3 separate regions of the Homo sapiens genome follow, and regions 2 and 3 are each reported to be linked to region 1. Evidence: microRNA targets listed by miRTarBase, many of them from high-throughput screens and not tested one by one. Region 1 holds a microRNA gene; each other region holds the end of a gene's coding sequence.

Evidence for each region. The annotated mature microRNA hsa-miR-154-5p reads UAGGUUAUCCGUGUUGCCUUCG and lies in region 1 at 1,558-1,579, opposite strand. An mRNA with a match to its seed (bases 2 to 7 or 8) in the 3' UTR can be bound and repressed. Matches are read on the target gene's strand: a 7mer-m8 pairs with bases 2 to 8, a 7mer-A1 pairs with bases 2 to 7 and ends in A, and an 8mer does both.
Region 2: miRTarBase lists SLC25A36 as a target of hsa-miR-154-5p. The part of its 3' UTR that is shown has no 7-base or 8-base seed match.
Region 3: miRTarBase lists CLDND1 as a target of hsa-miR-154-5p. Seed matches in the 3' UTR shown: 7mer-m8 at 1,533-1,539.

The regions. Positions count from the first base shown.
Region 1 is chr14:101,057,987-101,061,347 of GRCh38, reverse strand. MIR154 (microRNA 154) reads right to left here and starts at 1,593; the gene lies at 1,510-1,593. It overlaps MIR496 (microRNA 496), which reads right to left and starts at 775; the gene lies at 674-775.
Region 2 is chr3:140,975,880-140,979,240 of GRCh38, reverse strand. SLC25A36 (solute carrier family 25 member 36) reads right to left here. Exons shown (of 7, transcript NM_001104647.3): 7 at 1-2,981. The coding sequence ends at 2,788. Among named protein-coding and RNA genes, the nearest start is that of SLC25A36, 36 kb to the right of the region's middle.
Region 3 is chr3:98,513,992-98,516,991 of GRCh38, forward strand. CLDND1 (claudin domain containing 1) reads right to left here. Exons shown (of 5, transcript NM_001040181.2): 5 at 1,492-2,888. The coding sequence ends at 2,668. Among named protein-coding and RNA genes, the nearest start is that of CLDND1-AS1, 7.1 kb to the right of the region's middle.

The DNA.
Region 1 (3,361 bases):
GGACAATGAGTGCAGATGACATAACATTCATATAATGACCATCCTCAGAAACAATGCTTATCCTACAGCCACGTGCCAGACGCTGTCTAGACACTTCACAAAGAGCACGTTTCCACTCCGCTGTTAACCCTGCTTTACAGAGGAAGAGACTGAGGCCCAGAGAGCTGATAGGTGAAGGGATTTTCCAAGGGCACACAGCTGGCAACATAAGGTAGTAATAAATGCTATTAACAATTCTCGTCTTGCAGTAGGAATAACCGAGTCGTGCCATGGAAATGTGTCTTTAAACAACATTAATTCTCACTGCTGAGGAAACCCCCTTCACCCCTTGCTTCCCAGAGGTCACCCAGAAGATAAGGTATTTGAGGGCGTAATGTGGATGTCTTCCATTCAGCCAGGAGTTCCTTTCCCTAAAGTGTGCCACACAGCCAAGATGATTTCACACCTAAAAAGGTTGACTAAATGTGGTTTATTCACTGACGAGTCTTCAAGGATGCGACTAGAAGACCACCATGTCAACTAAAACGTCAGCATCATTTCGGGGAATTCCTCCTAATGATGGCCGGGATATGAGCCAAGTGATGTAAGTCACACAGAGAGCACCTGTCATGCGGAGGTGATCCACTTCCTTACCCTGCGCAGGTGCCGGCTGGGCTTTCCCCTCGTGACGTTTCCCAAGAAGAATTGAGTACCGAAAGGAGATTGGCCATGTAATACTCATCATAAATAAAATGAACACACCATGGACAACCTCCATTCGAGTACCTGACTTGGGTGCTCGCTTCCAGCGCGTCCCAGCAGCAGGCCTGAGGACGGACGGGATACTGAGAGTCAGGAAGGTGGCAACACACCACCCACGAAATAAGCTCTGCGGTCCGGGCCGCACTCCATCCCTTACTTGCAATTAGCACCTCTTGCAGGAAGCCATTCAGGGAGGGAAGTGCCACAGCAGAGAGGTCTGCAGAGCACCATCTGTGATACATGAAGAGAGGGCAGCAGGGAAGACAGCAAGACGGTGTCTTGTCAAACATGCAGTGAGCCGATGAGGGAACTGCCGCCTCTTTCGAGGAAACTGCCATGGTAAGCAAGCAGGACGCCTGCAGGTGCACGACCCACCAAGAAGAGTGTGCACACTGTCAGCTTCGCCGTGCGTTCAGGCATTCAGACACCAGTTCTAGTTCCTAAACTCGGCACCACCCGAGGGTGCTTTAAGGCTAGATTTAATGCTTTCAAAAGAGTCCACTATGTAGGATTGGTCAAAAAATAAATCGAATGCATCATGGAAGACCTCTCCACCAGTACCACAGAGTAGCTCTGATAGGAAAAGCTCCACTTCTTCCCCAAAGGTGGCACCATCTCTAGAAACCTCCCCAAGGACGGGGCACACACAGGGTTAGGGCCAGGGCACACTGCTGGGTCGGCTATGGTCAATGGTCCCCTTCCTTACCCTGGAGAGGAGCTGACACCCTGAAGTAAGACTCCGCTCCAGGAAGCCCTCCAAGGCGGGATTTGGTACTGAAAAATAGGTCAACCGTGTATGATTCGTCACAAATAAAGCGAAGGCAACACGGATAACCTATCTTCAAGTACCACACGCTAGCGCAGACCCAATGTCAATGCCTGTTCTCCAAAGTTGGCCTCCTCCAGGAAGTCCCCCTAGGAGACAGTGAACATTGACGGTTAGCAGACGGACTGCAAGAGGGTTGAGAAGAAAGCACACGCCCTGTATTCAACCATTCCATCCCGGACCCTGCAGCCATCCAGACCTCAATGCCTTTGCCAAGGTGGGTGCATGTCTAAAGGAGCACTGCCAGGGAACCTGATGGTGGAGAGGCCAAGTGCACAGAAACTCAGCATTTGGATCAGAGCAGGGCACATTCCCTCATCTCACATTAGCATCGAGGCTGACAGTAATGATCCTTTCCTTACACAGGCCTTGTGTCCAGGAACCCTCCAAAGCTGAGTCCATGACAAAGAGACTGACTTTACAATATTGATCATACAGAAACAAACAGCATTGAATGCAAACTTTATTAGACCATGGCATGGCACTGACCTCAGAATCATGGCCTCATCCCCAAAGGTGAGCATAATTTCCAGGAAGTCTTCCTAAGGATAGATTGCATGCTTGGGGTTAATGGTACTTCATATATGGTTTTTCAAACTCTTCCATTGTTAGCAGAAAATTCACATACCTGGCCAGTGGTGCTGACTCCCACGACCATCTCAGAAGTGGCATTGCCATAAGGCATCCTGCCAGGGTGGAAGGTGACACTGAGGAGGGGGCATCTGGGTAGGATTGTTTTAAATAGACAAATGCACAGTGCAAATGACAACAGACTGACGTGCAGACAGATGGCAGCAAGGGGCCAGATGACAGACTTTCTTCTCCTCCAGTACACAATGAAATGAACAAAACAGATTATTTCACCAAAGAAAAAACCAACACCTGGAGTAGAAAAGTGCTCATAAAATGAATAAATCCTTGAAACAAAGGAACGATTAAATCTACTCATCAAGAAGGCATATTATGATTCAGAAAAACTAATGAATAAAAATAGTGACTGAGTCATAACCCGGTAAAGTCACCAACGTTCAAGACTAAAGAAAGAATCAGGAAATCTAAGCAGGAAAAAAAAAAAGTTCATCCATCCAAGGGAAAGCAGCTGTCCCCAGGCTTGTCCACAGCAATGGTTTAACACCAGAAAGCAATGGAGGCAAGTTTACAAAGTTCAGAGGGAAGAAACTGGGAGCCAAGAATGTCATGCCAAGTTCACCCATCATTCAGCTCAAAGGCTCCATCCCAGCAACAAGCACTGATAGGGAACCCTCTCCTCCACAAACATTGAGAAGTGTTGGATAAAATGCAACAGCAGGCAAAATCAATTCCCAAATAAACATACAGCTGAAAGGCAAAACCCTCAGGTGTTAATGAAAAGAATTAGTTCATGCAACCTGCCACTAAGGGATCTAAGGGATGCTGTGCTGGCTAGAGGCTCCAAGGGTCTACAGTCAAGTTCAAGTACAAGCAGGATGAAAAGACATGACCGTGCATCCAGGAGAAGTTGATCTGGGAATGGAAAGGGGAACCAGAAAATTTTATAATGGCCAGGGATAAGAGAATTTGTCATTTTTAGGGAGTGGATAGAATGAGGTCTCCTGTGAGATACCAAAGGTTCAGGACAAAGATATGGTGAGGACTTCTGCCAGCCATATGTCTGGGAATCCTTAAGCCAACAAAATGAGTTGAAAAACTGGTACCAACTGGTAAATTCCTTGGGGTACCAGGCAGAACCAAATGCAAACTCATGTGCATAGGGATTGAAACAAAACAGAAACACCTAAGTGCTCAACTGATGAT
Region 2 (3,361 bases), not on the chromosome of region 1:
TGGTCCTAACATAGTAATGCTATCTCACAGATAATCTAATGATATTCTATCCTGACTTCAAAGTTACAAATTCACTGTGGTGGACCCATCTAGAAAGGATGGTTCTACAAAGTTACATAATGAGAATCAAACGAACTTTTGGTGATAGTTTTTTTCCTGGGATTAAAACCACTGCATGGTATCCCGAAATCACAAACGCTAATTCTTCAGATTTGAACTTTGAAATTTAAAAGTACAACAAACTAAATAATGTGGACTCTACACCAGAAATAAAAAAGTCATGATAAACAGATGAAAACAAGTTAAAAAAGTCCAATGCTCTGAATATGTGTTTTTGTTTTTAAACATGAGTCGATTTTTTAAAAACTTCAAAGAAATATTTCAGAGACAAACTTTATATACAACTTTTATATATAGTTTTCCTTTTTGAATTATCTCTGTCATACATAAACTATTGCAGATTGTGCTTAGGGAAAAATACAACTGAAATAAACTTCATTGCTCCTTTCTAGTTGTTGCACAAATAAACAATGTCCAAGACTCTAAGATTTCTTTGCTTTCCAGTACATACATAATACTGTTAAAAGCTGAATATAATGCACTAAAGGTCAACACAAGTTTTACTTGCTAAATACAAATAGAGAATATATGTTTATCCTTGAAGGACACTTGTTATGAATATGCTACAACTAAATAATAAGATGTTCCTTAGCTGCTGGTTTTCATATCATTCTTAATCATTTGTGGGGTACTGAGATCAGTAAGACTAGGGAGAGTCTCTATCTTACATTCAACACAATGAATGTTTATGGGTCTTCACAAGGCAAATGGCACTGTATTAGGCAGTAGAAATGGCACCTGAAAAGGCAAACACGATAGATTCAGACCTTCTCTACAGATTTGTTACAAACCGGTTTTTGGTACGTTCCTCATAATACATGTCAAAGCTGAAATTTACCATAAAAGGTACGAATAATTCCAAAGGTAAGAAAACTGATTTTGCCTTTGGTCTCCAAATAGATTGGAATATTTTTATTCCAATTGAGCACCTCAAAAACATCCAGTTACTGTTGATCACAAGGAAGTTAAAGTGGGGGAATTTAACAGGGCACTATGTTTCACTGGTGACAGCAGAGAAAGCTTGCAATGACACGCTGCAATATTCTATAATGTTGGGGGTACGACAGGGTACACAGAATACCTAAAACATTTATATTAAGGATATCCGAAACAACATATTTAAAACCCAGAAAAATGTTATGAACACTGTTTCTGCCTAATACGTGACCAATGTTTTTGTTTTTTTTTTTAATCTTAACATGGTATTCTCTCCTACTCTCTCACCCTCCCCCCCAAAAAAGGCCACAAAGTGCTTTCACGAAGCGTCATTCTTTTAGATAAAGCCATTGCACAAAATGTACAGTTCAGGTATACTGAAATGAGTACCACACCGGCGTCCAATTGCGGCAGTTTTTATACACCAGTATGGCATAGGCGAAGTCTTTTAACAGAATTACAGCAAACACCTTTATAAGGGCCATACAAATAACACATTTAAAGTATTAAAAGGTACAGCTGACTCAATAGCAGAATTTAAAAGCTACATCCTATTAGCACATTTAACCCAAATGAACTTGAATCTTTCTATGATTTACCACGCAGGAAACTAGGACAGAATAAATTTCTTGTCAAAAGCAGTTTGTTCATTTACACAAAACTATAAGTCAATTAATGTCACTACCTGCTAAAGCAGACAGCAAGGGGGCCCTTGTCTATAATATTTATACTGTCCCAAATATTGTCACCTTAAAATGGCAAAACTTTAAATTACTATTTTCTTTACAAAATAAATGTAATCTATTATATATAGACCTGGAAAAAACTCAAAAGTTCAAATTCTTAATGTGAAAGCAAGTAGGTAAAGATTCAAAAGTGAAAAAATCTTTTACACTTTATGTAAATGATACTTAAGTATGACAAAGAGGTGATAATTCAAGTTCGTAACTAGTAAGTCACTAAAAAGATAAATGCATTCATTCATGTACCACAAAATCAGAGAAGACACGAGGACATGCCGCAGTCAGTGAAAAAGCCGAGAAATCAACATTTTACTAGTTATTTTGTCCCAAACTATTACCATGTGTGTTTGGTATGTTAACAATTTAAATATCCACATTAGGCTAAACAACAAGCACCTGTCAGCAGTGGAAACCAAAACATTTTGATGCTAAAAAATATACAAGATATTTAGACGCTATTTCATTGGTTGTCAAAAACAGTGACTACTGCCAAATAATTAAATTTAAAATATTGTGCCAGGTCCTCTCAGGGAAATGTGAAAATAATACTGACGATCTCATTGTCATTGCTGTTATTTTACTGGAATTAAACAAAGGCCAGAAGTTATAAATTTATGACTGCCAATACTATCTTTGGATAGTTACAATACAGTATGTAAAATTAAGGATGGCTTTGTTTAGAAGACTGCCATAAATCAACAAAACCCAACTGTGTCTGGGGGACATGGTAGAGAAAATGGCAATTTTGAGAGAGGAGTGCTTCTAAAGGCATTTCCTTGGAGGCTCTGAGGTTTTTTTTTTTTTTCACATTACCGAAAGGCCAAGTAATGTGGTGTGATTACTATAATTCCTACAACAAAACTTCCACTTAGAATAGTTACATGTTCCCAAACTATTTTTCTTCTGTCTGCCATGCTGGCTTCTGTATCCCATGGTCCACTGTAATCTTTTGGTCTTCTTTTTTTGCAGTACAGCAGTCCTCGTGCTGCTATCCATTGAGTAGGTAAACCACCAATTCATAGGTGGCCATCATAATGGCTGTGTTTGGAATCTGTCTCACTAGATGAGTTGTCAGACCACGATAAAGAGACCCATAACCTTCTTCTTGAACAAGCAAAGATAGAGTCTGAAAAAAAGATCTGTATTTTGTTCCCTCTTCACGTAGTCTTGTTCTTACAACTTCTGTGTAGGAAAGAAATAAAATTAAACATTACTGATATCTTTACACTCTTCTAATTATAACTGAGCACATCCCATTTATCAGTCTGTAAGTGTAAGCTCAGGATAAAAAAGGATGGCTTCTAATGTGTAGCTTATTGAAACCAGTCACATTATAGTAACATCAAACTTCTAATATGGCCAAAATCATGTACATTAATTATAGACTTTATAGTCTTTGAATGTAAAAAGACACAATATAACAAGAGAGAAGTATCAGTTGTATGCTAGATAAACAGATAAAAGGAAGAATAGAAATGAGAAGGAGGAAAAGGTGAAGAGGCAGTAAAGAGGTGGCATCCAGGATGAATATAAAAAGGATACAGTGAGAAACAAGCAGAAAA
Region 3 (3,000 bases), not on the chromosome of region 1:
ACACACAACTACAGCAGGTAAAATTTTAACACATTCCCATTAGATTATAAATTTGAAATCCTAGTGTAATATGATGCAGACAGAAGGCACACTGTTATCTGAATAAATTCTAGAATTCCTTTTTTGTTGTTGTTGTTGTTGTGCCAAATTGTGTTTTATGGCTATACTTAATAAATTTTGAAATGAGTCTTTTGCTAAAAATCATAGAGGATATTTACCCACATCATTTAGTTAGGAGCTATAAAATCAAAGTCTTAAAACACATTTGTTAAACTGCCACAAAATTCATTCTGAGGCCGGGTATGGTGGCCCATGCCTGTAATCCCAGCACTTTGAGAGGCCGAGGCGGGCGGATCGCCTGAGGTCGAGAGTTCAAGGCCAGCCTGGCCGACATGGGGAAACCCCATCTCTACTAAAAATACAAAATTAGCTGGGCATGGTGGTGCATGACTGTAATCCCAGCTACTCGGGAGGCTGAGGTAGGAGAATCGCTTGAACCCAGGAGGCAAAGGTTGTGATGAGCCAAGATCGCACCATTGCACTCAGCCTGGGCAACAAGAGTGAAACTCCACCCCAAAAGAAAAAAAAATTCATTCTGAAAAATCTGAAAATTAATTTTTTACTTTGGGGGTTGCTTTCAAAGATTAAATAGGGTTCGCCTTGCCACTGATTTTATCTATTAGGTTGATCAAAAATGGCTGAATATCTGCAGTTTCATATGGTTCAACCTGATTAGAATCAGTTTCACATTTAAATGAACAATACAGCCCTATATATTCCAAAGAAAAAAAGTCTTTGCAGGAAAGATAACCTCAGCTACCCTGCAACATGCTAAAAATACCAACTACAATGCAGCACCAGGGGTTATGGTGCTAGTAGCTTCCCATGTAACTCTGGGGTATTAAGAGGCAGGGACATTGTTTAAAATAACTGACCAATACAAAAATGTCATGCTGCCAAAAATTTTCTTATCCCATTCCCAAAGGTGTTTTGTTTGTTCATTTAGCTTTTCTCTTTTCCACCTTCCACAGAAGGCGCTGAAGGGTAATGAATCTTCAAGAATTAAGATTAGATAGAAACCTGAGTAACCAGTCATTTCACAGGCAATAATTGGCTACAGAGTAATGCTGACTTTGTTCTAAGTCAGAAGCTGACTTGGTTATTTACTATAGAACACAAACATCCACAGCCACTAAATGACTTTACTGAAAACTAGCCACATTAAGTATGACATGTAGAGATAACAAAACTACTTTTGAGAACATGGTTTAAAATTCTGAAAAATAAAAGATAAAGATTTTCTTATTTCTAATAGGGGGAAGGGGTTCCTACATTTCCCAGAAGATCAAACAAGAGACCCAAACACAGGATGTAACGACAGCCCTGTACAGCAAGATGCACTTTGCACAGACAACCACAGAGATTGCCTCCACTTCTTTATCCTAAAGTGTTGAGATTTAAATCAATTCAGACACTCTATATACAATTGAGTCTCTTTTCATTTTTAATTTTATTTTTTAAAAAAGACATTGAGGTTATGGTAAGAAATTATGAAGTTACATTTTTTTAATCTGTCAATTGCTACAGTAGTGGAATAAATAAATAAGTTTTTTAAAGTTCAATGTTTATAGACATACTTATAAAAAAATGACTGAATTAGAAGACATTAAATAATGTTGATACACACCAGGAAGGGATTTAGGCAAGGAAAGGCACATCATATTACCACAAGAAATAAAGACCATAGTTGGAGGTTAATGGACAGCCAGAACTTTAGATCTTGTGGTAGGTTTCCCAGCTCTGGAGGGTCATTATGGTGAAACGTTCTTTATAGTACTGGGCTGGAATAAATAAATAGCAGTTGAGGAATTTTACCTTGTAACTGTAATATAATGTAAAAAGAAAGCACACTTTTAATAACCCTGGTATGTGAAGAGGAAAGAAAAAAAATCCAAAACAATTTGGTGGTACTGAAAATCTTACGGAGAGTTAAAAATAATACTAATCCTCGCCCGGCTGAACTGGAATTCTTGCAGTTACAAAGTTAAAATTTCAAGTAAACACTGTATTTTTCACTTTTTGTAGACAGACACAGTGCAGATACAAACAGCTGCCATATCTCACCTCAGATGAAGCTATGTGTCAATGCTTAGGGAAAATGATCTTAGATAATTTCCCAATTTTATAGAGCTTAAATCTTTGAAAACAGCACTAATACTGCTGGTTGACTGGCTATCTACAACAGCAAAGTGAACATAAAGTTTTGACGATGAGAGGTTTCCCAAAGAAACTAATATAGAGTTTTTAGTTGAACAGATACAGTTACTTTAGTTTTACTGAAAAGTCTAACAGACATTAGCACAACTTGTTTTCGGTCACATTCCTACTCCCAATTTTCTTTCATAAATTTGTGTCAAGTCTCTATCCATTTCTTTCTGTCTAGACCTAGATTAGTTTATTTGAAAGATGGCATCGCTTAAAGTAAACCACATAAATTTTAGTGGTATTAAGTGTGTATTTAGTGGTGAATGTGTATAAATAAAATAGATTTTCATAATAAAATGGTATATCCACAAATAAAAATTAAAAACAATTGAGAGGTGGGGAAAATATCAGTATTATTTTAAAAAAATAAAAATGGCAATTGTAAAGCAGGCAGTTTCTTGCTCATGCCACACGATATGCCTTCATTAAGGTGTACTCTTTCCGGTTGGTGTGAGCAGCCCAGATGAAGAGAGCAGAAGCCATGAACTGTAAGGGAGCAGAGACACAAGCCAGGCAGAAGGACCATCCAAATTCACCGGATACATTGTCAGGGAGCTCTAGTTTCTGGTGGAGTAGTTCAATTCCAGCAACATAACAACTTACTGAGCCCAGTGTACACAGACCTTGGGGGAAAATTTAGAAAACAAAACAAAACATGGCTGGATAAAAGCACAGTAAAGAGCTTTTCAGGCAATGTGACAGGGCAGTTAATACGTGAACATTTCAGATTTATAA